Linked DNA regions of Homo sapiens: region 2 is linked to region 1. Evidence: fine-mapped expression QTL. A gene starts in region 1. The other region holds a variant in brackets. All regions are shown on one strand. Distances are between the middles of the regions.

What was found. PIP is the estimated chance that this variant, and not a neighbour inherited with it, causes the effect.
Region 2: its variant is fine-mapped to the expression of DHFR2 in whole blood (TOPMed, PIP 0.98).

The regions. Positions count from the first base shown.
Region 1 is chr3:94,056,731-94,073,306 of GRCh38, forward strand. DHFR2 (dihydrofolate reductase 2) reads right to left here and starts at 6,186. Exons shown (of 2, transcript NM_176815.5): 1 at 6,016-6,186; 2 at 1,192-4,876. The coding sequence starts at 4,781. The coding sequence ends at 4,218. NSUN3 (NOP2/Sun RNA methyltransferase 3) reads left to right here and starts at 6,331. Exons shown (of 6, transcript NM_022072.5): 1 at 6,331-6,408; 2 at 7,707-7,816. The coding sequence starts at 6,397. RefSeq lists an enhancer at 6,225-6,464.
Region 2 is chr3:93,885,242-93,899,255 of GRCh38, forward strand. It overlaps PROS1 (protein S), which reads right to left. Exons shown (of 15, transcript NM_000313.4): 8 at 13,207-13,328; 9 at 11,335-11,450; 10 at 7,692-7,881; 11 at 1,095-1,262. Among named protein-coding and RNA genes, the nearest start is that of PROS1, 82 kb to the right of the region's middle. The variant A/G (reference allele first, on the strand shown) is at 9,232.

The DNA of each region.
Region 1 (16,576 bases):
TGAATTTTGGGGGGACAAATTTCAGCCCATAACAGTTAACATACTTGTTCTACTGCACTATGTACATTTTAAATACACTTCCCTAAAAAAAGAAATTTTAAAAGACTACATAAAGCTTAATAAAAATAAAAGTCATTATATTTACTTCCTAGACACAGTGGATTGTCTGCTGGAGTTTGTACAGACCACATTGGAGCCCTGAAATTTAGTAAAATGAGAATCTCACCTGACGTTTAAGCCTAAGATTGCCTATAACTATGCTGTGTTCTGTAGCATTGATCACAGGTTTCCTGTTGTGTTTTCCTGTTGTTTTTCTGCCATATATTTTAAGGAGCTCAGGGCTCTCTTGATGTCATATTGTTTTACTACAAAGCGTCTCCTTACCTTTTTGACAACATAAACCTCTATATGAACATGAAGGGTTTTGACACATTTTATATAAATATGAAAATTCATAAAACATAGTTTAGGAGTTATTCCATAAATTACTCTGAAATACTTCTTAAGACCAACTGACCTTATAATAAAATTGCTTAGATATGTAAAAATTTGTTTCCTGCCTAGAGGTACGTCCTTATTAAGCTGCTTGGTTCTTTAACGCTAACATTAAAAAAAGCACAAAAAACAAACTAATGTGATTTATGTTATTTGTGTCAGCTCAATGTCTTATGTCTGCAGTGGTTTAATTCAAGTTTGCTGCTAACAGTTTTTATTCCTAAAACTCAATGTAGAATTGTTTGTTCTTTGGTAGCTATTTGGGGTGCGGATGGGGAGTAAAATCCATTAACATTCTCATGATACACATATATTGATTCTAGATAGATTAAGAGGTTAAACATAAAAGATCAAACTATGAAAAGGTAAGGGGAGAAACAGAAGTGGCTTCACTCGGGGAAAAAATGTATAAGCCTGAAAGCAGTGGAATCAATAAACTCAATTTACAATGCACAAAAAAAATTTTAAAATACCTTCACACTTAAAGTCAAATGGTTATAAGAAAAATTGAGAAAGTGTTTTAACATCTGACATGGTTATCTCAAATATAAATAAAATGATACTAAGACACCTATAGATAAGTGGACATGAGCGGTAATCTAAAAAAGAAATAACTAATAAGATTTGAAAACCTACCCAAACTAAGGGCATAATTAACTAGGCATTATAAGGAGATTATTAGAGATTCAGACAAAATTCATAAGCAAAGTTGTTTATTTAAAATCAGAAAATATAAAGATGCTGAGTCCCAAAAATGTGATAAAATTAATATGACCTCTTTCCAAGTATAACACATTGCCTTTCTCTAACAGAAATAAACTATGATTCTTATTACAGTCTTAAAATTCTTTTTTTAATGAATGAGTGTAACTTTTTATTAAGATAGAATTATTTTTATTAAAGAAATATATGAAAATGGTTAAGTAAAATCAAATGGCTCCAAAAGTCTTACAATGAAAACAGTCCTGCGACTTGTTCTTTCCAGAGGAAAGCACTTTTCATTCTCTTAGTTTTTCCTTCTGGTAGTTACCTCCATGGGTTTTAAAAAATTACTATTTTTTTAGTTTTTCAAGTGAATACATATATTAATACATGTAATCTTTAAAAGCCTCTTCAGTTTATAATGCATCCTAACAGTCCCCTGCCCCATCCCTCCTAATTCTCTGGAGCAATGACTTCTAACTCTTCTAGCAATGTTCCATTCTTTTCTTCACATAACTACTTAGTCATTTCTTGATTATGTTATACATTATATAGTGATTTCTTGATATGACAGATGAGGATTTAGCTCTTACACCATCACTATCTTCACTTTTCCCCCCATATTGTCCCAAAGTAGTTACCAGATTTAGGGGCTAAGCAGTCAGTCACCACATCATTATGACTATGTACATATTGCCCATTGTTGAGAAAAACAGCGTATGATGCTCTTACTTCCTATCCTGTACTTCTTCCTGCCCTAGAATTAATTATTGCCTAACCAACCCTTCCCCCTTGTTTTTTTTTGTTTTTTTTTTTTTTTACTTTTGCTTTATCTTCAATGCACTTCTTTCCAAATGCCCCAAATCTGGCAATAACCTATTATTTTTAAGAGAAGGGATCTCACTATGGTGGCCAGGCTGCTCTGAACTCTTGGGCTCAAGCCATCCTTTTGCTTAGCCTCCTGAGTAGCTGGGACTACAAGCATGGGCCATCCCACCCAGCTAATCTATTAGTATTTTTACTGTTTCTTTTTAAAGCTAGCTCCATAGCTGGAATATTGCCTGTGTTGGATACTATTTGCTGGATCCACGTCATTCTCTGGTTTGTGTACGCCTTCATTTTGCTGGAGTATTTTCTCCGATAGCTTCCCAAGAAAGGGTACATGTAACCCCTGAGTCTTTGCTTGTCTAAAAATGTATTATTTTACCTTCACCCTTGATTCTTTGCCTGAATATAGATTTATCAGTTGAAAATAACTTTATAGAATTCTGAAGGCATGGTTCCGTTGTTTTCAGATTCTTTTTTGAGACAGGGTCTCTTCTGTCACCCAGGCAGGAGTGCAGTGGCAAAATCACGACTCACTGCAGCCTTGAACTCATGGGCTCAATTGAATCCTCCATCTCAGCCCCGTGAGTAGACGAGACTACAGGTGTGTGCCACAATGCCCAGCCAATTTTTGTATCTTCTGTAGAGACAGGGCTCCACCATGTTGCCCAAGCTGGTCTCAGGTGATCCACCCACCTCAGCCCCCCAAAGTGCTGGGACCACAGGCGTGAGCCACCACTCCTGGCCAGTTTTTAATTCTCTCTCTACTTCTTTCATTTCTCAAAGGCATCTCAAACTCAGTGGGCCCAAAACCAAAGTCAAACTCCATCAGAATATCCTGCTACTTCCAACTTTAAAATATATCTTAAATCACAATTTCTTACCACATGCAATCCTTTGGTTCAAACTACCATCATCCCTCACTTGAACCTAGAATTGGTTTTCCTGCTTCTGTACTTTTTTAAATTATAAAATATTTCAAATAAACCATGTGTGGCTTTATACTTTTTACTAAAAGAATGAAGATCTGCCAAGTGCAGTGGCTGATGCCTGTAATCCCAGCACCCCTGAAGGCCGAGGCAGGAGGATCACCTGAGGTCAGGAGTTCGAGACTAGCCTGACCAACATGGAATGTCCCCACCAAAAATACAAAATTAGCCTGGCGTGGTGGCACGCGCCTGTAGTCCCAGCCACCCAGGAGCCTGAGGCAGGAGAATTGCTTGAACCTGGGAAGGCTGAAGTTGCCGTGAGCCAAGGTTGTTCCATTGCACTCCGCCTGGGCAACAAGAGTGAAATTCTGTCTTAAAAAGAAAAAAAAAAAAAAGTATGAAGAGTTTACATACTTAAACATGGAATTGCTTTAAGTGTTTGGCATTCACCGTTCCCGTACATTACAGCAGCTTCTTTCAGCAAACACCTGGAACTTGCTATTGAGTAGGTGGAGTACGTTCTGCCCACACACAGGACAGGGAGCTGACAACCAAGGAGTGGGGGTTAAATACTCTAGCTTTCTCCCCTCCGTTTCCCTGTATCTCAGCAGTATGGAGCTCGTTACCATTGAGAACCTCCTCACTGATTTTGAACTGGTTTTTACCTTCTCAGTTCCATTTCTCCATACTTCGATTGATGACTTCTGGTATGACCTAGCAAATAAACTGCTTTCACTTAAATTTCAGTCTTGGAATCTGCTTTGGGTTCCCCAATCTAAGACAGAAATATATTCATTTTCCCATCACTGGACTTCCAGGTTGTTTTCAGTTTTTCACTGTTACAAAAAAGGCTGCAACATTTGTCTACAAACCTCTGGATATACATGTACGAAGCTTTTGGTATTTCCTACTAGTGAAACTGCTCAGCTGAAGGGTATGTGCATCTTCATCTTTAATAAATACTACCAACATTAGAAAAGCCTGACAATGTCAAGGAGTGGCAAGAGTGCCACATGTGATGGGTGTGGAATGGCAGCTCACTGTAGCAGGTGCTGGGGACTCAGTCGGGGTCTTGGAGAGACAGTTATAGCAAGAATGTTTCATAAATGGTATCTGATATAGCCAAGATTAGTGAGGAATAAAAACACGTTGCTTAGAAATAATTATCCATAGATCTGAAGTCAACAAAAGTCCCTTTTCTAATGTAAAAATGCATACTTTTCTCAGAGGGAGGGGGAACAACTTAAACCAGAAAACACCTTCATATTAATCATCCTTCTCACATACTTCAAATTTGTACTTGATGTGTTTCCCCTCCTGGACATCAGAGAGAACACCTGGGTATTCAGGCAGAAGTTTATATTTCTCCAAGTCAATTTCTGAAAAAAACGTGTCACTTTCAAAGTCCTGCATGATCCTTGTCACAAATAGTTTAAGATGGCCTAGGTGATTCATGGCTTCCTTATAAACAGAACTGCCACCAACTATCCAAATCATGTCTACTTTATTTGCTAATTCTGGTCGTTCAGTAAGTTTTAAGGCATCATCCAAACTTCTGGCAAGAAAATGAGCTCCTTGTGGAGGTTCCTTGAGTTCTCTGCTGAGAACTAAATTAATTCTATCCTTTAAAGGTCGATTCTTCTCAGGAATGGAGAACCAGGTCTTCCTACCCATAATCACCAGATTCTGTTTACCCTCTACTGAAGAAGTTGTGGTCATTCTCTGGAAATACCTGAATTCATTCCTGAGCGGCGGCCTGGGCAGGTCCCCGTTCTTGCCGATGCCCATGTTTTGGGACACAGCGACGATGCAGTTTAGCAAAAGAAACATGACAGCAGCGGTTAACACCTCCGAACTTGCTGGCTACGCCAGGAAGCCAGGCCAAGAATGCCGCGAAATTCCCTTCTTCAAATTTTTTTACGTGCCTACATTGCAAATACAATACCACTGTATTAATTAATTGCAACATTCTGGAATGAACATAGAAAAATAAATTATATAAAATATATTTATAAAGTATAAATTTATAAAATATTTATAAAATATAAATTTATAAAATTATAAAAAATACAGAGGCTGAAAGGTTAGACCGACTTTTCCACAAACATTAAACAGACGGCATCCAAGAGATGGCATCATTTCATTCCTGATTATCATAGTCTTTTGTACCAAATCTAAATTCTAATAAGATGCATTTTTTAGGTGACTTGGAAACTTGTTTAAATAAATAAATATATTAAGCTTCAAATCAGATTAGAAGGAAAGACATGTTTTTACATGAATATAAGACTTGTACCTATAGCATGTACGTATATTGATATGAGCATCAAGGAACAACTCAAAATGATGATTATTAACTATCAGGGACCATATCAAACCGGTTTTTTCTAATTGCTGATTGCTGCTACAAATGATAGTTACTGAAGCATGACACCAAAAGAGCAAATAAACTTCTATTCGTGTCAAAATAGGTGTAATAAACATCTTCCTTGGAGAACCATTAAACATTGCTCCCTTGTAAAGGTGAATTGGGGAGGCTAGAGTGGAGGGTCCTTTTGGTCTTCACGCATTTGGTATCAACGCGACAAAAATCACAATGATCACAATAGTGAAAATAATAGCAGCTAACATTTGGGCATTTACTGTTTCCTAATCACTGTTGTAACCGCTTTACATGCCTACTTCAGTTTAACACTCTCCATTAAAAGGAGAGATTATCCCCATGGGCCAGGTCTGGGGAAAAGCATGACTTAATTTCTTTTTCATTATATTCCACCCTTTTATCCTTGGGTACTGAATGTCTAGGTTAACAGGGGTCACTAGATTTGGTAGATTAAGTCAGTAACTAGCTTCGCTTTGAGAATATTTTAAATCAGTCATCATACAACATAACCCCAAAACTCATTCCTTTATTGAGCCCCATGCATATACACACTGTTCAGCACAATATGCGACTTTTTATTTATTTTTGAGACAAAGCCTCGCTCTGTCGCCCACGCTGCAGTGCAGTGGCGCGATCACGGGTCACTGCAACCTCAAACTTCTGCCCAAGCGATCCTCCCACCTCAGCATCCGCAGAAGCAGGGGCCGCACAGGCGCGCAGATGTGTGACTTTCTAAGGTCCGGCCGCCCAAAGCTACGCCGACCAATCCAAGTAGCGAAAGTCGCTTTGGCCCTGGCCCGTTACCTCCGCGTCCTGGGAAGTATCAGCCTTTACCAGCTACCGGAAGTAACTGCGCACGAAATCTCCCGCGGGAGCTAAGCCTCTTCGACAAGAATTCTATAGCGCGAGCAAATCAGTATCTCGCGAGAAATTGAAGAGGAAACGTGAGAATGAAAGTGGATGCCCGCGAATCCCGGAAGTCAGACTGTTTTTTTCAGTTCCCTGGAGGCTTTTTGATACTGATTCGCGTACACCTGTTGTTTGAAAGCTCTCAGCGGGACAATGCTGACCCAGGTGAGACCTGGGGCCCGGCTGGGTACCTCTATCTGAATGAGACGCTTCTGGACGCGGCCGAGGTGGCGAGGGAGGGTGCTGGGATGGGGGAACATCACCTTTGTTCGTCCCCTCGCGAGATCAGCGTTTCTTTGGCTTTACTGTCAAGCCCTGAAATAATGCTGAGTGCTGTAATGCTGAGTCCCTTCCGTCCAGCTCGCAGACTTCTAGTACCCACTCCCTCCAGCTCTTGGAGGGCTGAGATTTGTTTTCTGTGTCACAGCGGTATCCCGGGAGCTTAGAACAGTGTCTGTTACATAGTAGGCATTGAATACACGTTTCTTGGATGAATAAATGAAACAATTGCAAGGAAGTTCACGATGAAATTGGAGTGACTTTTCTCCCTAAATTAACTTTTCACTTTAAAATAACGTTGCAAAGATAGTACAGAGTTCTCAAATACCTTTCACCAATTTTTCTTGATGTCAGCATCCCCGGTGACTTTTTAGTTTTGTTTAGATACAAGTTCTTGCTCTGTCACCCAATCTGGAATGCAGCTGCTCCATCATAGCTCACTGTAACCTTGAACTCCTGGGTTCAAGCGATCCTCCAGCCTCAGCCTCCCTAGTAGCTAGGACTACAGGAGCAGGCCACTACGCCTGGCTAATTTTTTTTTTTTTTTTACTTTTTGTAGAGACACGTCCTTGATATGTTTTCCAGTCTGGTCTTGAACTGGGAAATGATCCTCTCGCCTCGTCCCTGCAAAGCATGAGCCAGCTGGAGTACAGTGGCGCGATCTCGGCTCACTGCAACCTCCACCTCCTGAGTTCAAGCGATTCTCCCACCTCAGCCCCCTGAGTAGGTGGGGTTACAGGCGCCCACCACTACTCTCGGCTAATTTTTGTATTTTTAGTAGAGACGGGTTTCCCGTGTTGGCCAACCTGGTCTTGAACTCCAGACCTCATGTGATCCTCCCGCCTCTGCCTCCCACAGTGCTGGGATTACAGGTGTGAGCCACCTGCCTAGCCCCTACAGTGACTTTTTAAAATTAATTTTGTTCCTTTTGACAGTTTCTTCAGCCCCAGTAGATTCTGTTTTAACCTTTGCTTCACATTTGGAAAATAATTATTTGGAAAAACCTTGCTTTTTCATAATTAGATAATGTACAGTTTTGGTACATGTAAGGTATTGCTTCCATTTCAAGAACTAGTAATTATCCAAAAAAAGTGTTCTTGTCTTAAAAAAAGACCTTGCTAATGTTGACGTTCAGTAAATTTGTAATATCACTGTGTGTCAGCAACTTTTTCTTATCGTCATAGCTGAAAGCAAAATCAGAGGGGAAGCTTGCAAAACAGATTTGCAAAGTTGTGTTGGATCATTTTGAAAAACAGTATTCCAAAGAACTCGGAGATGCCTGGAATACAGTAAGGTTAGTATAATTCATCTCGATGCTTTATGATGGAACAAAGTACAATATGTAGTCCTCCTTTTTGTGGGAGGGATGCTGTGAGGTTAAAAGGCAAAGGAATCTAAATCTGGTTGCCTTTTCCTACTGAAGCTATAGAAAGGAACAACTAAGAAGAAATAGAATGAATCATAGCATGTTGGAAAGGGGAAATAAAACTTTGTCGGGATGGTAAGCACAAATTGTTACGCCTTTGCTTTGAGCAATTACTTTGATCCTTGAAATAGGAATGCCCACTAGTTTGACAAAATTAATTATACTGTAAAAGAAAAAAACATAAAATTTGGAATATTTGACTGATTTCTGAAATTTAGAAGATAATACAACAAATCTTTAAAGCCAGCACTGCTTTATCTCAGCCAAAGGTACACTTTATTTGGTAATCATATTTCTTTCCTATGTCGATGGCTGGGTATATTTTGAACACGTGCATATACACACAAAATTATTTAAATATAAAAATAAGGAATGTTTAATGCATGGAAGTGGGAGAAATGTGATTTGTCTGTTTGGTAAGATGATGTTAATGTATGGATTACTGTATGGGTTCTTGACATTGAGTGCCTGATACACTATATAACCCTCTCTGGAATACAGAGCAAGACAGTCTGCATGTCCAGTTTACATGCCGTCTAGTTAGTGTTAATGGGAGAAGTGAGGAGATGGGTGTGGTTACAACTATATAAACTAATTTGTAAATACTGTGATCCAAGTATCTAACAAAGCCTGAGGGTGCCAGCAAAGGCCTGAAGGGAAGCTGGGTCTTGGTGACTTAGAGGAGTTACTTTGACAAAAAGAACTAGGCCTCCTAGGTTGAGGGAAGAAGGTGCACTGTTCATGAAGTTAGGGCAAAAGCCCACTACATGTTGCATGAGGAAAAAAAGTTGCATGGCTACAGATATTATCTGGAACTTGGTCCAGACTAATTTTTCAGATGGTTGGCTTGTCCATTTTTTTCTTGGATCAACTCTTAAGCATTTCTCCTTTACAAAGGGCAGTTCTGAGCATTTTCTAAAACAAATTAAGTTTTGGCTAATAAAGATCACAAAGTCTGAGGTGATTCTGAGATAATTTTAGGACAATTAAGCTGTTATAGAAATTGGTAAATGCTGTAATATGCAAACCGTTTATACTCGTGGGTTTTATTTCAAAAGTAGATTTTCAAATGGGTATTTTCTGTCACAGAGATGAAGAACTGAATAATAAAGTATGTAATAAATTTATGAGGTTTTCAGTATACAAAGGTACTCAAATAGAGTATCCAAATAACCAAACACTTATTGCATGTTTACTATATGCCAGACAATACTGACTTACATGATCCTCAGAACAAACCCGTTAAGAGTTTAAGTAATTTGCCCAAGTTCACTCAGCTAATAAGTGGCAGAGCTGAGGCTTGTGCCTGGGTTGTCTGACTCAATAACTCCCACAGCTCATCCTTGTTCTGTACTGTCTCATATCTGGGATGTGATTTAAAAAAAAAAAAGATTTCAAGAGGCTTTTTTTTTTTCTGTAGACTTTGTAGCAGTCTGGCTACTCATATCCTATAATGACTTATTTTTCTACTTAGTGTACTCAGAAAGTCATATACTATTATTTGACCCTGAGCAAAATGAGCAATGAACCTCAAATCCATTTAATTAGCTGTGCCTTCTGCTTCATTTACCCTATTGTGGGGTTTTTGTGGTAATTTAAGTTTTGCATAAACACACACTAAATTTGCCATAGGCAAAATAAAGGTTTCTCAGCTTAGGAAGTAGTCTGAGCATGGAAGATGGTATGGGGAAATAAGAACAGAATGAAATATTTTGTGTTTTAACTGCTTGTTTGCAAGACATAATGTACTTGTAGAGTCTACTTCCAGGGAAAGTCAAGTGCTCTTTTTTTGGCCTATTTAGAAAGTAATTTATTCAATATTTTTAGTTTCCTGTAGTAGTGAGGAAGATTTAGTATTTAGTTTTGCTCTTTTTTAGTAACCTTTCTTGTCTAGTCATCCTCTGAGCAGCCCTTTAAAATTGGAGTTTACCCTGGTTCAATTCTTGCTCTATTTGTTGCCTCCATGTTCTCCTCAGGTAAGCCCATTCATGGCATGACTTTTATCAGTATGCTGTCATCTCAAGCTGTGAGGTTCTTCCTAAGATTTAGTCCCATACTTCTGTTTTTTAGCAACTTCAGTTACTTGGCAAACTCAAAAGTGTATTATTATTTTTCCCTTTCAAACTTATGTTGCCTTTGCTACCTGCATATTTTATCTCAATTAAGTGTATCACCATCAGTCTGGTTTCCTCCTTTCTTCTCTATACCTTCACTACCTTTGTAGTAAAAAATGAACCTTATATAAAAATAGGTCTGGCAACTGCCCTCAGCTCCTGGGAGGCGATCTCTAAGCCCTTGGAATGTGCTTCCTGATAAGTGTGTCTTTGTTTACCTGGGTGTTGAGGTCACACCTGATAATCTAACGATGTGATTTATGTTGAGGCCTGGGGACCACAGGTGTCAACTCAACATCCAGAAGGGCTTGTGACTAAAAGCTGTATGGACAGTCAATCATATATACGTGACCAAGCCCCAATAAAAAGTGGATACCAAGGCTTTGGTGAGTGTCCCTGGTTGGCAATACTCTTGTGCATACTGTCATACATTACTGCCAGCAAAAGTTGACCTCGTTGATGATTCCGTTGGAGAGGACAGCTGGAAGCTTCATGCTTTGAATTGTTGTGAATTCTGCACTATGAGTCTCTTCCTGTGATTGTTTTTAATCTGTATGCTTTCATTATAATAAACTGTGACTATAACTGTGATTATAACAGCTTTCAGTGAGTTCGGTTGTGTCCCAGTGAATAATCAAACCTGAGAGTCATCCTTGGAATCCCTGAACTTGTAATTGGTGTCAGAAGTGAGAGTTGTCTTTGAGACTCAACTACCCTGCCCCCTTTTAATTTGGATCTTTTTAAAAAAATTCTCTACTGCTGCCATTCACTTAGACCTTCCCAATCTCTTATCTGGCATATTGCAACAGCCATGTTTAGTACTTACCTGTTTGCTTATTTTAGCAACCACTTTTATGGCACTATGTACCAGTCAATGTTGTAATCACTTTATGAATAATAACAATCCTATGTACAACCCTCTGAAATAGTTATTTCCATTTATATATAGGAAAGCTGAGGCACACAGAGGTTAAGTAACTTGCCCAAGTATACACATCTCACACTTTAACTTGCCCAAGTATACACATCTAACACTTTGAAGAGCCTTGAGAGTTTGTTGTACCCACTCTGTCATGCTGTTTCTCGGTGCTACCAAATTCCATTGTGTCACACCTTGAGTACAAACCTTTGCTCCCCAGAAGTCTGCAGTATTATGTTTGGACTAAAAATCTTATCTTTCTGGGCAGGCTCCTTCATGCCTTTGGGACTGGCTATGCTGTTCTTCTGCTAGGAATGCCTTTTTCCCTTCTCCCTCTGTGCAGTAGTGTGGGTTCAAATCCCACCTCTGCATCTTGTAGCATATGACCTAGGTGAGTTAATATCTCTGTGCTCCATTGTCCTCGTCTGTAAAATGGGGAAAAAATAGTATCTATTTCATATAATCATTTGGGAAGATAAAATGAATTTGTGTATATACAATGTGAATGGAATGTTGTTTGACGTATAGTAAGGACTTCATATGCATTAGCATTATTTTTGTTACTATGATTAACCACTTCATCAAGCCTTCTGTATGTCCCTTGGCAAAATTAGTTTTGCCCTTCGTGTATCCATTGCATTTTGTTGATAGAGCTATTGTGATTCTTTCAAGGTTTTATCGTCATAATTTACTAACTTGCTTATCTTTTTCCTGACAAGGGAGGGTTTTGAAGAACCAATACCTTGAGACTTGGGCAAGTCTTCTGCTTATTCCCAGTTTTGTCAGTGTTTGTGTACTAGGCATTGTGCTAAGCACTGAGAATACAAAAATGGACTGTATATATCCTGCCCTCAAATACATGTATGATTAATTGGATAATTAATGGATACTTAATAAATGTATGATTAATATAAGCATTAATTAGAAATATTTATTAACTGTGGAAATTTTACATGTACTTTATAGAAAGCAAAACAAACAGACCATATAAGTCTGAACTGTCTGCAACATCTTTTTTTTTTTGGACACTCTCCTCACTGACCGAGAGTTCACATACAGAGAGGAAAAAAAAATACACACACACACACACACACACATACACACACACAACCTGATAATATTACCATAATCTGTGAAGGATGTAGACTGAGGTGGTTAAGAAAGAGAGAAATGAACCAGTATCTAGATTTCTATATTGTCCTATATGTTGGCTTTACACACATTTTCAGCCTTAATCTGTGCAAATCTCTGTGAAGAAGTAACTTTTAGACACTTTAAAGTCAGAGGTTAGAACAATTGATAGGTATCTTGTAGTTGTGGCAAATTCAGTCCTGTGACTTAAAAGTCCACGCCTTTTCCTATACCATCTGTGCTGCTGTGAAGGGTCCAGAGTTGCATCCTTCCAAATGTATGCTCAGATCCCGTAGTATGAAGGACTCTTATGTTCAGGATTTTTAGCCTTTTGATGTTCCACCAGAAACGCAAAGGATTTCCTATCTGAGGTACAGTGAATAACAAATCTGGACATAAATTGCCCTTCTGTGAGATACAAGGAAGATCCATTGCCAAAATAGAATAGGAAGCCATCAGCTCTTCGTTAGCATCTCTGAGGAGTAAAAATAAAATGACTCAAAAACATACTTTGGTGCATTTCCATAAATTGATTTGTTTTTCATTTCTAACTTTTAAAAGAGTTGAATGAGCACCCTCTAGTGGATAATAATAGCACTAAATCAAGGAATTTCTCTTTTTTAGCTATGGAAATTTAAATAGGTTCTGTAATCTACAGGGTTATATTAATTGTGTTTAACAATTTCTAGATTAAATGATATTTTTCATCTTCGTCACTAGGACGGAAGGTAGGGTGGAGAGTAGAGTAGTAGGAAAAAAGAATAAAGTCACAGAAAAGTTGAATGAAAATTATACTATCAAATAATAAACATTATCGAAATGATACATTATACAGTTTTGCAAAATTTTAACTTAACTAGCTTTTAATTTTTTAATGCTTTAATTTTGTTAAAATAGTAAGTAGTTCAGAGAGCCTTGAATCAGAACTCCAATTTTATTCATTTACTCCAGGATTTAGGCCCCAGGCACTTAGCCAAGGAGAAAAATAAGTCAAGGCTCCCATATAAATGAGTTAGGGAAATGGGTAAGCAGGCAGGGTGACACACAGTGTGATATATTAGTTTAGCTTCATTAACTGTTTCTCAAAATTCAGTTATTCTTGTGTACCATCTGTCTAGTTTTACTTAATTTTTTTTTGGTCAGTTTTAATATTTTTCTTTTGTTTCTTAGGAATTTTTCTTTTGTTTCTTAGGAATTTATTTTTCTTTTGTTTCTTAGGAATTTAAGCTTATTTTATATCATTATCAGTAAATAGATGTGCCTAGCCTATAGTTGACAGACGGTGTATTTTTAGAGAATGAATGAATGTTGACAAGAAGATAATATACGATGGCTCACACCTGTAATTCCAGCACTTTGGGAGGCCAAGGCAGGAGATTTGCTTGAGGGCGGGAAGATTGCTTGAGGACAAGAGTTCAAGACCAGCATGGGCAATATAGCAAGACCTCATCTCTAGAAAAAATAAGCAATTAGCTGGGTGTGGTGGTGCGTGCCTGTAGGCGCAACTACTTGGGAGACTGAGGTAGGAGGATCGCTTGAGTCCAGGAGGTCGAGGCTTCACTGAGCCATGATCGCACAGCTGTACGCCAGCCTGGGTGACAGAGTGAGACCTTGTCTCTAAAAAAAAGAAGACAAAACAGACTTAGCATGTTGGAGGGAGGAGCAACAATGAGTGAGAAATAGAAAGACTTTTCAAGGGGGTATGTAGGCTCAGGCAAGTGACCGCAGTCAGTTTTCACATCCTCAACTTTCATGTATTCTCTTTCAGAAAATTACTCTGCCCCTCTGTACATAAGGGGGCACATATTCTCCTTTCCCAACCTGCCTTTCTCCAATTTCCCTTCACCCTTTTCACAAAAAGAAAGGCACACTTGCACCATTCTGGCTTCTATGCTATGTTCCTCCAGGTATTCAAAACCTCCATATGCCAGAAACTATTGGAGTGTCAGTGTGAGAAAGCAAATGACTAACAGATTCTCTGACAAGTCAGGTGGTTTCCAAGTTTTGCTTTCAACAAAAGTAAAGGAGCCTTGATTGAGATGTCAGCTATCAATTCATTTAAGACATTTTTGATGATAGGTTGCTAAGTGATTTGGGGATATAACTCCAAAAGAATTCAAAGTAAGAAACATTGCTATAACAAAATATATTTAATTCTCATCCACTTATTTAACTGAAGGTTTTTCTCAGCTTTTATAAAAAACACAAAATAGGCATAAAAATGATGTTGAATCCTGACTGATTTTATTATAGTAAGAAGTAATATTCATTTATGGATATATGGAAACAAAAGCTCATTTCATTAAGTATCCATTTCTTACCAATTTTTACTTTTATAAGTTGTTTTGATCGGTTTTGTACTAATAATATTATTGATCCCTGAATCCAGAAGTTACCATTTTAACACTTAGAGATTTAAGACCACAGGAAAAACAAATTTAGTACATACACATGTGTATATGTGGGGGCTAGAGAAGCATGATAGGGTGATAAAAAGATTTCAAGCATGAAAATATATTAAGATGAAGTTATATGAAGTAGAATGTAAATAAAAGAGGAAAACGAGCAGCATAAAATTTCCACCTGTTAAAGATGAGTCAGTCTATGAATTTTTAAATGGATGATGATGGGTATCAAAATCATTATGATATTTAGTTTCCACTGGGCACATACTAAAGGCAGTATAATTTGTATTTTAAAATGTCAATTTTTACAGTATGCTGGAAATTGCATCCTTTAAACATATGGTGAGATTTTAATGTCAACTTAAAATGTGTTTTTTTTCAAAATGATATCAGTGGTGCACTAGCAAATTTGCAGGTCACTGACCTTGTATGTCTCCAGTTCTGCTGGCTACTGAGGTACTTGCACTTCTTCTCACCTGGAAGACCAGTAAATGGAGCCGCTTCAGACTAACTGTGAATCTTGGGAAAAGGCCTGGAGTGTGGCACCTGGCCGCTGTTTTCTAGAGTCATCTAACATACATTCCCTCTACTGCCTGCTAAGCTACTTGCCCATCCATAAAAGCTTTGGATTCGGAAGCCACTTTCCCTCCAGCCCCAGGTTAGCAACCCACCCAGTGCAGGCACAGGAGGGGTTGTATGTGTGTGTGTTGTGGGGAGGAGAATGGAGGTCAGTGGCAGGTGTGTGCAAGGGGAACTGTAAGAATCATATTAATACACAGCTTTGCTTTCTCAGGGCTAGGAAGCACCAGCCTGAGCAGCCTTAGCAGTCCCTTCAAGAGTTGGTCTGTTGCAGCTGCTTCTATAGGCAGGATGTGGCAAGCTGATTTCATTGTTAGACAGAAGAGGGTTTCAGGGAGGTCATGGCCACTTGCACTAAGTGAGGGTTGGGGTAAAATTCTCTTTCTTGCCCCCTTTTGTAGCTCTGTGCTGTAGTACCAGGGTCTCACACGTTGGGAATCACTTCTGTTAGACTTTAAAGTCAGTCTGATTTTGAATCAGATACTTCTGCGTACTAGCAATGTGACCTCAGGTAAGTTGCCAAAATCTCTAAAAGCCTCAGTTAACCTCTAAAATAGGAGTAAGAGCTGCCTCTCTCAAGGTTGTTGTGATGGTTCTATGATATAAACATGCAAAATGAACATTGTACACATCCAGTCAGTAACATTTATTAATAATGATATCAGAGTATGGTGGAGGATGTGAACCGGGTGGTAAGTGGAAAGACTTCGTTGGAGAGAGAAAACTCCCTAAGTTGAGAACAGATAGGTGAGAGAGGAAAGGTTATTCAGGGAGGTTGGGGGCCGGGCATGTGGAGATCAGTAAATTTTAAAGAAACTTGTTAGAAGAAATCTGTATAGTTCAGTAGGGTTGGGTGTAGATCATGAAAGATCAAAAATTTCGTTTGTTCTATTTAGGCCTTATTTTGTCTAGTCACTAAAGAATGAGATAGAGTAATTTCTGAAGAGTTCTGCCTCAGTCTGCAATAAGTTCTTCTCTTTTTTTTTTATTATTATACTTTAAGTTCTGAGGTACATGTGCAGAATGTGCAGTTTTCTTACATAGGTATACCCATGCCATGGTGGTTTGCTGCACCCATCAACCCATCACCTACATTAGGTATTTCTCCTAATGCTATCTGTCCCCCAGCCCCTCACCACCCGACAGGCCCTGATGTGTGATGTTCCCCTCCCTGTGTCCATGTGTTCTCATTGTTCACCTCCCACTGATGAGTGAGAACATGCAGTGTTTAATTTTCTGTTCTGTGATAGTTTGCTGAGAATGATGGTTTCCAGCTTCATCCATGTCCCCGCGAAGGACGTGAACTCATCCTTTTATATGGCTGCATAGTATTTCATGGGGTATATGTGACACATTTTCTTTATCCAGTCTATCATTGATGGACATTTGGGTTTGTAACAAGTCTTTGCTCTTGTGAATAGTGCTGCAATAAACATATGTGTGCATGTGTCCTTATAGTAGAAGGATTTATAATCCTTTG
Region 2 (14,014 bases), 170 kb before region 1:
CTTTGTTTGTTTGATTGAGATGGAGTCTTGCTGGAGTGCAGTGGCAGGATCTTGGCTCACTGCAACCTCTGCCTCCCTGGTTCAAGCGATTCTCCTGCCTCAGCCTCCTGAGTAGCTGGGATTACAGGTGCCCACCACCACGCCTGGCTAATTTTTGTACTTTTAGTAGAGATGGGGTTTTGCTACATTGGCCAGGCTGGTCTTGAACTCCTGACCTCAGGTGATCCACCCGCCTCGGCCTCCCAAATTGCTGGGATTACAGGTGTGAACCACCACGCCTGGCCTTGTTTTTCTTTAGTGGCATTTATAATATGGGTTTGTCTTGCCAATCAGACTCTAAGTCTCTTCAGACACAAAAGTGTTTGCATTCTTTAGCCTCCATCAAGTATCCTGCCAGGCTCAAGACATGTAATAACCGTTTCATAAATGATTGATACTTTTTGAATAATTTATTTTACTTTTAAAGTGTATTAATTTCTCAGTTTCAAACAACAGGTATACTCATGTCAACATGGGTTAATTAATTCAAGCTTAATATCATATAATGGAAATCTTTTAAAAGTTAAAGTAACTACGAATTTCCAGAGAATGAAAGACGGATGTAAGATAGTAAATATTTAACAATAAATTTCACCTTATGTGCTATTCTTTAGCTCTTGCATTTAAGTCCTAAAAATAGACTTGAGAAAGTCCTTTGACTGGCTTTTACAAAATGGTGTAATTTTGGACTTAAATATATGAATTTATATGTTTAACAACTGAGTATGGATTATCATGATGTTAACACTGAACATTACATTACTAATGTTAACATTAGTGTTAACATTCTCAAGTGTTAACTTGAGAATTTTAGAAATCCACTTCATGATTTATGCTGGGGATTTAAATGGGCACAAAACCACTACGTCATTTTTTTATTTCATTAATATAATTTCAAGGGTTACTAATGTTATTTTTCCATGATCATTTCAAGTTGTCACACTTAGTATGCTTAACAAAACAACTTCTATTGATTCTCAGAAACACACATATTCAAATCTATTACAGACAAAAGGAACTCATCCATGATGAATGATACAAGCTTGGATCATTACCGGTTTAATGAGTTCACTTTCCACTTTCCGAGGGAATCCTGCAAAGTATACTTTGGTTTCCAGCAATCCATTTTCCGGCTTAAAAAGGGGTCCAGGTTTATTTATATCCATCACAGCTTCTTTAGCTATTTTAATGCTAATACTATGTTCTAATTCTTCCACAGACACCTACAATTAAAAAGAAAAATTACCAAATAACCAAGTATTACTACATGTCATTTGAAATACTGGGATCTAAAACTTATGTTATTATTCCAATAAAATACTTCTGTAAAGTAATCATTTTAATGTAATTATTAATTTGTTACAACTCATTTGGAATGTCAAATTATGATAAATGTGATAAAAAGGCATTTAGGGTGGCAGCACGATCAAAAATTAAAAGCATACCATATTTTAAAGTTAAAAAAAATACTATTCTGTTAAGCTTAAACATCCAGTTATATATCTTTCAATTCCAGGCTGCTAGAAAATTAACAATTAAGTGAGCCATTCTATCTTAGGAAAAATTTAAGTGGCCTTATTTTGCAATTGTCTGATAATACGCACATGGAATCAATAGTGTAAATAAGTTCTTTTTTTTTTTTTTTTTTTGAGACGGAGTCTCGCTCTGTCGCCCAGGCCAGACTGCGGACTGCAGTGGCGCAATCTCGGCTCACTGCAAGCTCCGCTTCCCGGGTTCACGCCATTCTCCTGCCTCAGCCTCCCGAGTAGCTGGGACTACAGGCGCCCGCCACTGCGCCCGGCTAATTTTTTGTATTTTTAGTAGAGACGGGGTTTCACCTTGTTAGCCAGGATGGTCTCGATCTCCTGACCTCATGATCCACCCGCCTTGGCCTCCCAAAGTGCTGGGATTACAGGCGTGAGCCACCGCGCCCGGCCCATAAGTTCTTAATATAAAGTAAGAAAAATCAATATGTTCACTATTCTGTTAATTGCACACAAATTATTTTTTCTTTAAAATTCAAAAGTGATTGAGGCAATAAGAAAAAAATACATAAAATTAAATTGGAGTTTTCCAATTTTGAGAGTTGTTTGGGTTTTTAAAAAAGGTTTCAAGTAAGGGTAAACAACAATAAAAATTCCTTCTACAAAGGCAATTTGAAGAACCACTGCTGCAATCACTTCAAGTAAAACTATAGCACTCAAAGAGCAAACTCTTCACTCACTAACCAATAATATAAGCCAAACAATAAGCATATTAAAACACCATGATAGGAAGGGAAAAACTATCCTCCAACATAAAATAAATTTAGTTACACAAATTTAAAGTTGGTCAACACTCCTTCTTTAATATAGCCAATTAGCAGCATGTGAACAACTATTCTCTCCTTTACAGACTTTCTTAACTTAGCCTACAACACTTGACCCTGATTGCTTCTCTTTCTACACTCTAACCACTACTTCTCAGTCTCCTTTGCTGGATCCTCCCCTCCCCACAGCTCAGGCCCCAGACCTTTTTCCTGTAGCCATGCAAGTATTTTAAGTGAGACACTATGACTCCACTCCAGGGCATTTGGAAAATTTGGAGGTGAGGAACACTTTTATTTGTCACAATGAGTAGGGGCCATGCTGGCACTGCAAGATGATAGACAATCTGCATTATGTACATAGGCTAGTCATGCAGAATTAATAATAATAAGTAATGCAGAACTAATAATAAAATATCAAGTATTCTTAAAATCTTTTGAACATCACTGCTAGGTATTCATGTAGGGAATATTCATGCTTACAATCATCTGAGTTTGTGCATACATAGACACAAAATATTTGCTGCACTATTTTAGCATTCATTACATTTTTCAAGAATGTAATAATCTTGACAACTAAGGATAGATTGATATTTGTTTTGTTCATATCTTTACCAGGAACTTCCCACCACTTTGGAAAATTAATATTACCAATGGCAACACCATGTATGCCCTTAATGGTACTTGAGTTGCTAATTTAACACCCCAGCATTAGTCTTCATTTGTAGCTTTTACTTTATGCATAGAAGCAAGCTTTGACAAGTGTTATAGTTATAGTTGACTACGTATATATTGAAATACATATTATTTTCTTATAAATTACTTTCCTTTTATTTATCCATATTAATATAATAATGACAGAATTATTTTGGTTTTGATTGGGTATATGTGAAGGTAGTTTATATTACTGATACATTTCATTATAGAATAGTAAAGGAGCATTATATATTTTCAGACATTGGATGAGATAGTGTTTGGAACCACTGGTCAACACAAACAGTTTCATGGCCTTAAAACCCCTCTTTATGCTGAGTATTCAAAAATTTTAATTGAAGGCTTAACTTCAAAAATATATCCAGAATCTGACCACTTCTTACCACTCTTACCATCAGCACACCAGTCAAACTGTCATCTTCTCTCCGCTGGGTTATTCCAACAGTCTCCTAACTCCATATCCCCATATCCTGTTATACACTCATTCTCCACTTCTGGTTTCCACAAAGCCATTAGCTTCTGATTGGGATTATCTTTTAAAATGCAAACTAGATCATGTCCCTTCTCAAAACCATCCAGGGCCTTTCAATTTAGCATAAAATCCACATCCTCATCATGGCCTCCAAGGCCCTAGATGATCTTATTCTAGACCACGTTTCTAACCTCATTTTCTAACTACTCTCCCCTGCTGCTACACTACTCTGTGTTATTCCTCAAATACCAAACACATCCTATTCCAAGAAATTCTGTACTTGCTGTTTACATGGTACAGAATCTTTTTATATTCCCTCATTTATTTCTCATGACATGTGCTCTCAAGTCTCAGCTCAGATCTAATCTCATCAGAGATGCCTTTCCTGATTCTATATGCATACTAACCACCATTACTCTCTATGTCTTTGTCTGGCTTTTCTTTTTCCTTATAACATGAATAACTATCTGGCATATTTATTTTTTCATGCATTTGTTGTTTGCGTCTCACCATTAGAACGCAAGCTCCATAAGAGCACTGACTTTTTTTTATTTGCTGTTGTATCTTTACCACCTAGAATAAGGATTAGCACATAGAAGTGCCAATAAATATTTTGCTGAATGAATTATGATACATTTACAATTAAAATTCCTATTAATATTAGACTCATAATCAAAGATAAGATGTAATCATTTATAAATTCACCACGTTTGCCCAAGTGTGCTTTGTTTGTACCTCTAATGTAATGTATTTCATGTTACATTATATTATTTCCCAAAGAAGCATCAGCTACTTATCTGTGAGGTACTAAGCTCTAGAGCAAGGAAAATCTCTTGCTATTGTTGCGGGAAGTCAGGGACCCCGAATGGAGGGACTGGATGGAGCCACAGCAGAGGAACATAAATTGTGAAGATTTCATGGACATTTATTAGTTTTCAAATAATACTCATAATTTCTTACACCTGTCTTACTTTAATCTCTTAATCCTGTTATCTTCATAAGCTGAGGATCTACATCACCTCAGGATCACAACTGTGTTAACTGTACAAATTGATTGTAAAACATGTGTGTTTAACAATATGAAATCAGTGCACCTTGAAAAAGAACAGAATAACAGCGATTTTAGGGAACAAGGGAAGACAACCATAAGGTCTGACTGCGTGCAGGGTCGGGCAAAATAGAGCCATATTTTTCTTCTTGCAGAGAGCCTACAAACGGACCTGCAAGTAGGGAAGATATTGCTAAATTCTTTTCCTAGCAAAGAATATTAATAATTAATACCCTGGGGAAGGAATGCATTCCTGGGAGGAGGTCTATAAATGGCCGCTCTGGCAGTGTCTGTCTTATGCAGTTGGGATAAGGACTGAAATACGCCCGGGTCTCCTGCAGTACCCTCAGGCTTATTAGGGTGGGGAAAAAACCCCACCCTGGTAAATTTGAGGTCAGACCAGTTCTCTGCTCTCAAAACCTGTTTTCTGTTGTTTAAGATGTTTATCAAGACAATACGTGCACCGCTGAACATAGACCCTTATCAATAATTCTGCTTTTGCCCTTTGGCTTGTGGTCTTTGTTGGACTCTTTATCAGTAGTTTCTGATTTTGCCCTTGTCCTGTTTCCTCAGAAGCATGTGATCTTTGGTCTCCTTTTTGCACTTTGAAGCATGTGATCTTTGTGACCTACTCCCTGTTCTTACACCCTCTCCCCTTTTGAAATCCTTAATAAAAACTTGCTGGTTTTGTGGCTCAGGTGGGCATCACAGTCCTATCGATATGTGATGTCACCCCTGGAGGCCCAGCTGTAAAATTTCTCTCTTTGTACTCTTTCTCTTTATTTCTCAGCCAGCCGACACTTATGGAAAATAGAAAGACCCTACAATGAAATATTGGGGGCAGGTTTCCCCGATATGCTATAGTTCTAATGCCTTGAACTCAGGAACTTAGCATCAAAAGCACTCACTAAAAGCTTACTGAATAAATGAGTGCATGTCTGCATAAATGAAGGACCAAAATAATTTAGTGATGACCTCACATGACTTCTCAATACAAACTTCTTGTCTGGGTGCAGTGGCTCACACCTGTAATCCCTGCACTTTGGGAGGCTGAGGAGAATTGATCACCTGAGGTCTGAAGTTCAGGACCAGCCTGGCCAACATGGTGAAACCTGTCTCTACTAAAAATACAAAAACTACCTGGGCATGGTGTCAGGCACTGATAGTCCCAGCTACTCGAGAGGCTGAGACAAGAGAATCACCTGAACCCAGGAGGTAGAAGTTGCAGTGAGCAGAGATCACTGCACTCCAGCCTGGGTGACAGAGCAAGACTCCGTCTCAAAATAATAGTAATAATAGTGATGATAAATAAATAAATAACATAAATAAATAAATTGAGATCAGCACAAACTTCTTGCCAGCTCCTCTAGGCATAAAAGATGTCTCTTTTGTGCACCACATTCTAAGGTGAAGCCAATCTTCTCTCAGCTATCCTCTGCTGATGGCAGCAATGACTCTATACTTCAGAAAAGACTTCTCCCCACTATCAACTAGCAGTAATCCCTTCAGAAAAGTCCCACTTTAATCCAGTTGATTAAAGTGCTATTCTTGATCATTAGATTAAAGGCTATATGTAGGATTAAATTAAAATGCTAATTTCTTTTCTTTCTTTCTTTCTTTTTATTTTTGAGACAGTCTTGCTTTGTCACCCAGGCTGGAGTGCAGTGGCGTGATCTCGGCTCACTGCAACCTCCGCCTCCTGGGTTTAAATGATTCTCCTGCTGGGATTGCAGGCGTGCGCCACCAAGCCTGACTAATTTTTGTATTTTTAATAGAGATGGGGTTTCGCCATGTTGGTCAGGCTGCTCTCGAACTCCTGATCTCAGGTGATCCACCTGCCTTGGCCTCCTAAAGAGCTGGGATTACAGGCATGAGCCACTGCGCCCAGCCTAAAATGCTGATTTCTAAGCACACTGGTACCTGCTAATGTATATCATTTGCACAAAAACTGACAACTAGGTCCGGTACAATGGCTCATGCCTGTAATCCCAGCACTTTGGGAAGCCAAAGTGGGAGGAGGATTCCTTGAGTTCAAGACCAGCCTGGGCAACATAGCAAGACCCTGTGTCTATTTTTTTTTAAGGATTACTTATCTATCTGCTTATATTTGAATTTGAATTACCTTTTTAGACTTGTTACTATGTTTATTTCTCCTTACTTTAAAAAATATTGTTGGCAATTGAGGAGTTTTCCTTGATCAGTGTTGTCTTTGCATAAATTGTTATGCCAGCCGGGTGTGGTTGCTCACTCTTGTAATCCCAGCACTTTGGGAGGCCGAAGTGGGTGAATAGCTTGAGCCCAGGAGTTTGAGACCAGCCTTGCCAACATGGTGAAAACCTGTCTCTACTAAAATTACAAAAATTAGCCAGGTATGCTGTTGCACACCTGTAATCCCAGCTACTCAGGAGGGTGAGGCACAAGAATCTCTTGAACCTAGTAGGTGGAGGTTGCAGTGAGGCAAGACCATGCCACGGCACTCCAGCCTGGGCAGACAGAGTGAGACTGTCTCAAAAAAAAAAAATATGCTAGCCGCGGTGGCTCACATCTGTAATCCCAGGACTTTGGGAGGCCAAGGCAAGTGGATCACCTGAGGTCTGGAGTTCGAGACCAGCTGGACCAACACGGAGAAACCCCGTCTCTACTAAAAACACAAAATTAGCCGGGCATGGTGGCGCATGCCTGTAATCCCAGCTACTCGAGAGGCCAAAACAGGAGAATCACTTGAACCTGGGAGGTGGAGGTTGCAGTGAGCTGAGATCACGCCACTGCACTCCAGCCTGGGCAACAAGAGCAAAACTCTGTCTCAAAAAAAAAAAAAAATGTTAGGCCTCCTAATAGTCCCTAACACCACTGTTCACCAAACAGCAACTAAAAAAGGTAAAAAGTTAAAGACAGAGTAGTTCAAGCAAATAACTAAAAACAATGATTCTAATATATTAAGTGAGAATATTATTTCTCAGGATGCTTCAGGGATTTACAGTATGTAGAATATACCTCATATAGCATCAGATAACTCCAAATCCATTTTGGTTTGGTATCACTATAAAAATAAATTATGATTTTATACAGACTGCATCAAAGTGGGAAGATATTGATGAAATCTGCAAACGTACCATATTCCATAGACCATTATTAATAACATCACCTCCAGTTGTGATTTTGGATGTATGTTCATTCTTAAGCTGAACTTCAATCTTTCCACCACGAAGTGCAATCAGGAGCCACGCTGAGTGATCGATAGATTCTGCGTACAGTATCACGCCTTCTGAATCATATGTCCGGAAATCAAATTCTGCTGAAAATCTAAACAATGGACAAAGAGAGATCCTTAAGAGTAAGAAATACAGAAAGCTCAATGCATTATTCTTTTTTTCTTGTACTGACAAACAGTAACACAGACAAAGAGTCAATTATTTATTTCTTTTTCTGGAATTAATAAAAGAGAAGGGCAGAATTAGACTGCTCATGTATTATCTCTGGTTCCATGTACGTTTAAAATTAAGTTATTATATTTTCTTGCTTATTCTTGGAATCTTTTCCCCAGGGAACAGATGCTTTGGTAATTTGTCATCTTTCTTTGACATATATTTTGATAGCACCTTCCAAATGCTGAAATTAATACACAGGTATAAGTATCAGGCATACTATATCTCTCCTGGAGCCTTTTATACACTATATAATCTGACATTAAGAAGTGGTAGTTTTTTTTGTTGTTGTTCTTTTTTGTTTGTTTTTGTTTTTGCTGTATCCATAAGTGATCATAAAATGTGTTACAATTTCATCGTTGGTTTATTCATCAAAAGGCATATTTTCCCTATAATTTCACATGTCAGGAATCACTCGTGGAGATCTACAAGATGGCACATGGATGACTGCAGACATCATTAAGCCTTCATGTGTGGTAAGAAAGGTAAAATTTAAAAACTTAAAATATATCTATTAGCTTTCCTAAAACTCCAGTTGCATAAGTCACTGTTGTAGAATACACAGAAGGAAAACTTAAAAGACATAGTCTACCCATGTGTTTGGGGGGTATCTGAGTGCTGGCAACATCTGTTGCTATTAAGACTCTAGACATATATGTAGCTATTACAGGGGAGAAAAGTCTTAGGATGCAGGACTTAAAATAACATGTGTTGATTCAGTATCCTTAAAACACTTCAATGAGAATCAGCATTGAAGTTTCCAAGGGACTAGCAAATCCACATGATTGACGAAAGACAAACAGGGAAAAGGAACAATAGGTGTATAACTATTAGTCACCTAACTTAAAATAAAGGCAATTTAAGTTAAAGAGTCTGGACTTCAGATAATTGCTATATTAGGCAGGACAGAATCCCACACTCTTACCGCAATATAGTAAAATAGTAATAGTAATAGAGGCACCATTTGCAATGGGGCACGTATCTCCCTCAAATGGAACAAAGAAAAGGTGACAAAATGAATGTTTTCATCTTTAGAATTCCAAAGAAATATTTAAAAAGAGGTAAAATGTGGAGTAAAGTATGTTGGATGGATAACAATGTAGTAGGAATTTACTGAACTCAGATTATGAAAAAAAGAACAATTTTGCTTGGAATAAGGACTTCTATGCTCTTTCATAATTATCTGAGCATTTTGCTGATGTGAAGCAATATTATCTTGCCAAAATCC[A/G]AATCTGTGTATGCTCAGGATCTTCCAGCAGTTGATTCTATTATGGAGATAATTTCCTTTTCTTTGTAAAATCAGGCTGAAATCATAGTTTCAAAGGGTCATGTTCTGCATATTTTGTTTCTGGAATATATCAGCAGCATATTGATTCATTACAATGGGGAACAATTCATTCTTTTTCACAAGCATGGTAAACAGGAAAATAGAATGAATTTGTTGACATTTACGGAGGGAAAGTATTTGATCATGAGCAACAGACGTCAAGAAATTTGCAAAAATAAATAAAAGCACTAGCTATTCTTTGTGTTGATCACACAAGGGGCAGTTTATAAAAATTCATCAAGCTATACATTTAATCTAATGTGTACATATCGGTACATACTTTATATTTCAATGAAAAGTTTAAAATAAATAAATAATAAATTCTGGAAAAAATAATTTGTCCAATTCTGATCCCATGTTAGAGATCAAACTACTATGAATCGTCAGTGAGAAATGAACAAACTCCTGGAGATTGGCTCCAGGACCTCTGGATGGTATCAATATCCACAGATGCTCAAGTCCCTTATATAGAATGGCATAGTATTTGCATATAACCTATGCACATCCTCTCACGTACTTTAAGTCGTCTCTACATTATGTATAATACTCAATACAATGCAAATGTATGTAAATAGTTGTCATACTGTATTGTGTCTCATTTGTATTATTTTGTATTGTATTGTCATTGTGTTTTTTTCTGAATATTATCTACCCGAGGTTGGTTAAATCCACAGATGAGGAACTCAAGGATTTGGAGGATCAATTGTATTCCTAAAAGTGTTATTTACTAGAACTAATATTTTTCTCTCATTATTATTCTCATAGCAGGGAAGAGTTTTCTCCAATCTCTATCATTAGAAGATATTAGTTGCTCTGTGATGTTAAAGGAAAAAACCACATATTGGCAGAAATAAAGTGTGGAAGGAGCACTGTTACTTAAGTATTTATGTAAGTTATTGATCTTAGAATAATTTTCAATGTTTTTAATAACGTCTATGAATTTAGTTGAATTATTTAATGAATAATCATTCATGTATCTAACATCAAGTTCTAAACATACATGCTTATTTAATTAAAATATTTTAAAATTTGAACTGTATAATCTGTCTCAAGTATTTTGCCTTCTCATTATTCCAAAAAAAATCCAATTTCTTTCTTCTACTTCCAGCAATGTATGCTTCTGAGAAAATCTGATAACTGAAGTACAATTATGGCAGATCACCTGAGGTGATCACCTGAGGTCAGGAGTTTGAGACAACCCTGGGCAACGTGGTAAAACTCTGTCTCTACTAAAAATACAAAAATTAGCTGGGTGTGGCAGCTCACACCTGTAGTCCTAGCTACTCAGAAGGCTGAAGCAGGAGAATTGCTTGACCTGGGAGGCGAAGGTTGCAGTGAGCCGAGATTGCGCCACTGCACTCCAGCCTGGGGAACAAAGCAAGACTCTGTCTCAAAAATAAATAAATATAATAAAATAAAAATTGGATCATAAACATTGCTATAAAAATAAGTGGAATCATGACTAAAAAACATAAGCATTTACTTCATTTCTGAACTCAATCTAAGTACGATAATAATGGATAAAGTATTTAGACAGCCAACTAAAATTATGTAATATATGTCTTTAAAATGCCACTTAAGCAAGTTTAAATTTTTTCCTTAATAATTTTGAATATAATGATATTCTAAAAGCAATACTGAGTATTTTTTATTACCTGGTTTTCATAACATGTGTAAAGAATAATGGAAATTTCACAAGTACATTAAATCTACTTTCCCAGCTTCTTAGTAAATATGCATTTTCTACAAAAGGAATAATATGGAATAATGTAAAATGTTCATTGGGGAAAGTCAGCCTAGAATGACTCAAAAAGGTTTTAGGATGAAAATTACATGTGTGAAGGAGTAAATTAACTTTAGGTTTCCCCAAGTCATCTGATTGGTAATATGACTACATTATCTGATAGGTAATACAATTTCACACACTTCAAACCTTTTCGGCCACTTTTCTTCTGCCCTTATCTGCTTAACCTCTAGAAATTATCATTGGTATTGGTTCCTCACCTGCTGATTTCTGGCAAACGAAATTTTAAATATAAAACAACCCCTGCAAACTGCTCCGCCAAGTAAAGTAATTCATACTTTGTGTCAAGGTTCAAGGGAAGGCACACTGAAACAACCTGGAATAAAAGAAACCAAATAAACAACAAGAAAATCAAAATGCACAGGTTATTGCTTAATGTTTGTGTGAGGTCATGCATTTTTGTTTGGTTACTAATGTATCATCTGTAATACACTAAAATAATTAAGAATATTTTTGGTAATAATAAATACATATCTTCCATTTCCTTGTATAGTCTATCTATCAGTATAACCTCCAAGAATACATGTGTTTTAAAGCCTCGTTCAATGTGCATGGCTTTCGATCTTTGTCTTTAATACTTCCTTTGCAAATTTTCGTCCTAAACACAAACTCTTTCTTCAAGAACCAATATATATTTCTTTAATTAACAGTCAGGTATATTATCTCCCATGAATTATGTCTGAAAATTATTTTTATTTGAAGTCAGAAATAGGTGTAAGAATTAATGTACCAATAAACAGCACCTCATTCATTCACTCATTCATTTATTAAGCAAAAGTTTTCTGAGCAAGAATGTGCTATCTAGATAGTAAAGGGAATACTGGAAAACATGAAGGAAATAAATATAAATTCAGATCTCATAGTCTCCAAGGAATTTACAAGAACATTATTTAAAGTCATCACATATGGTATCAAGTATTTTTTTTCTACGAGTGAAAACAAACATTAAAATGAAAAGCTTTTAACATACAAATTATTGAACACATATGAGGATATTTTGAGGAGAATTACGTACATAGCACTATATTAAATATAGGCCCAGAAATAACATTTTATTTCCCCTTAAAACTTTAATAAATCTATTTCAAGGCAGACGGTGATATGTAACTACACCAAATACAGAAATAATAAAGGACTAAATTACAAAATAGATGTTCACACAGCATGGCATTTCAATTAAGTAGTAACGTACCAAAATTACAACAAATGCCAACTAGCTTATTACCAAGTAGGTTGCATATTATTGAATGTGACATTTTTCTGGACATATACAGCTTTGTTTTGGCAACAGCTATAGAGGTATGTATGTATACTTAGTTAAATCATTATTTAGGCATTTTTTATGGTCTGCCTCATAATAATATATAATTTTACCTTCACTTGTCAAAAAAAGATGCAGGAAAAAAAGAGCTCAGATGGTGACATTTATTTCAATGAAGTAAAAATGAGCACCTACCCCCAATATTCAATTCCTGGGTCAATTATGCATTAAATCTAAGTAATTAAAAGCAAGTTTGAGAGACACAGATTAAGAAATCAACCTCTCTGAATTATGATATACTTAAACCCCACTAAATCCTAGAAATGGTTAAAAGGGTACATTAAAACTGCACTTGTACCCTCTGAAATTTTATGAGCACTTTATAAACCCTATAACGCCTAAGGCATGATCAAACTAGTCAGAGTGGAATCCAGAAAAGTAGACACTGGAAAATGTTTTCACTGAAGTTTCTATGAGAGATTTTTTTTCACAATGAGGGCTATTAAACTCAGCTTTTCTTGATTTCTTAAGTAAACATACAAGTTGTATTTTATAAATGTACAGACTACAGATAAGTACTCTCTAAACTGTGACTCTACCCTCTTTTTTTTAAACCCAGCCACTAATTATCCCCAATGTTTATGACTTACATGACCATAATTAGTAAATAATCATGACTCATAACCTGCTTAAAGCTACAGCAATTATTGCAGAACGTCTGTATTTTCCTGACTTAGCTATGTGAAAATAAGTATCTAGGATCTCTCATTTTAGAAAACAGGTGAGAAGTTAAGCATTGTAAAATGTTTACCTCACAACTCTTCTGATCTTGGGCAAGTTTGAATCCTTTCTTCCCATCACAATAGCAAGTGTAACCTCCAGGGTAATTGACACAAAGCTGAGCACACATGTTCTCAGAGCATTCATCTATATCTGAGGTAAAAAAAACACACGCACACAAACTTTAATATCCCCTAAATGTTCAATCTTATAGGCAGAGGAATATTATGATTGTAGTATGATATAATCAATGATAATCGAACCTTAGGGAAAGAAATACTATGACATCAAACTACATTTAAACATAATACTGAACATGGAAATTTAAACGAGTTACAAGTATAGTTTTTATTTACATATTTGAAACAAAAATTAATTTATAACTTTCAGTGATTAAGTAAAGTATAACAATTCTACCAAATTTCTCATTTTGAATTTGAAGAAAAAAAAGATTGAGAATCTCAACTTAACTGTCATTTCTGATCATTTGAATTTCATTGAGATTACCTCACAATTCATTGCTTTGAAAAAAAGAAAAAAGAAATGAGAAGGGAAAGAGGAAGGGAGAGCATGATGGGGAAGTAAAGGAAAGGAAAGTTAGGGAAGGGAAGGGAAGAAAAGACCCCTTTAACTGAAGGTTGATACAATCAGGAATTAAATGACAATATCAAGAACATTGGAACACTCATAATGCGATAATTAATGTTGGCAGTGAATTTAGGGAAATATCTGTTTTTTTTTTTTTAAAAAACCTCACTGTGATGTAATCTCCCATATTATGAAATCTTCTATATGGTCCCTGTCCCTACTCCATATTTTGAGAAAATCATTCTTGGAAA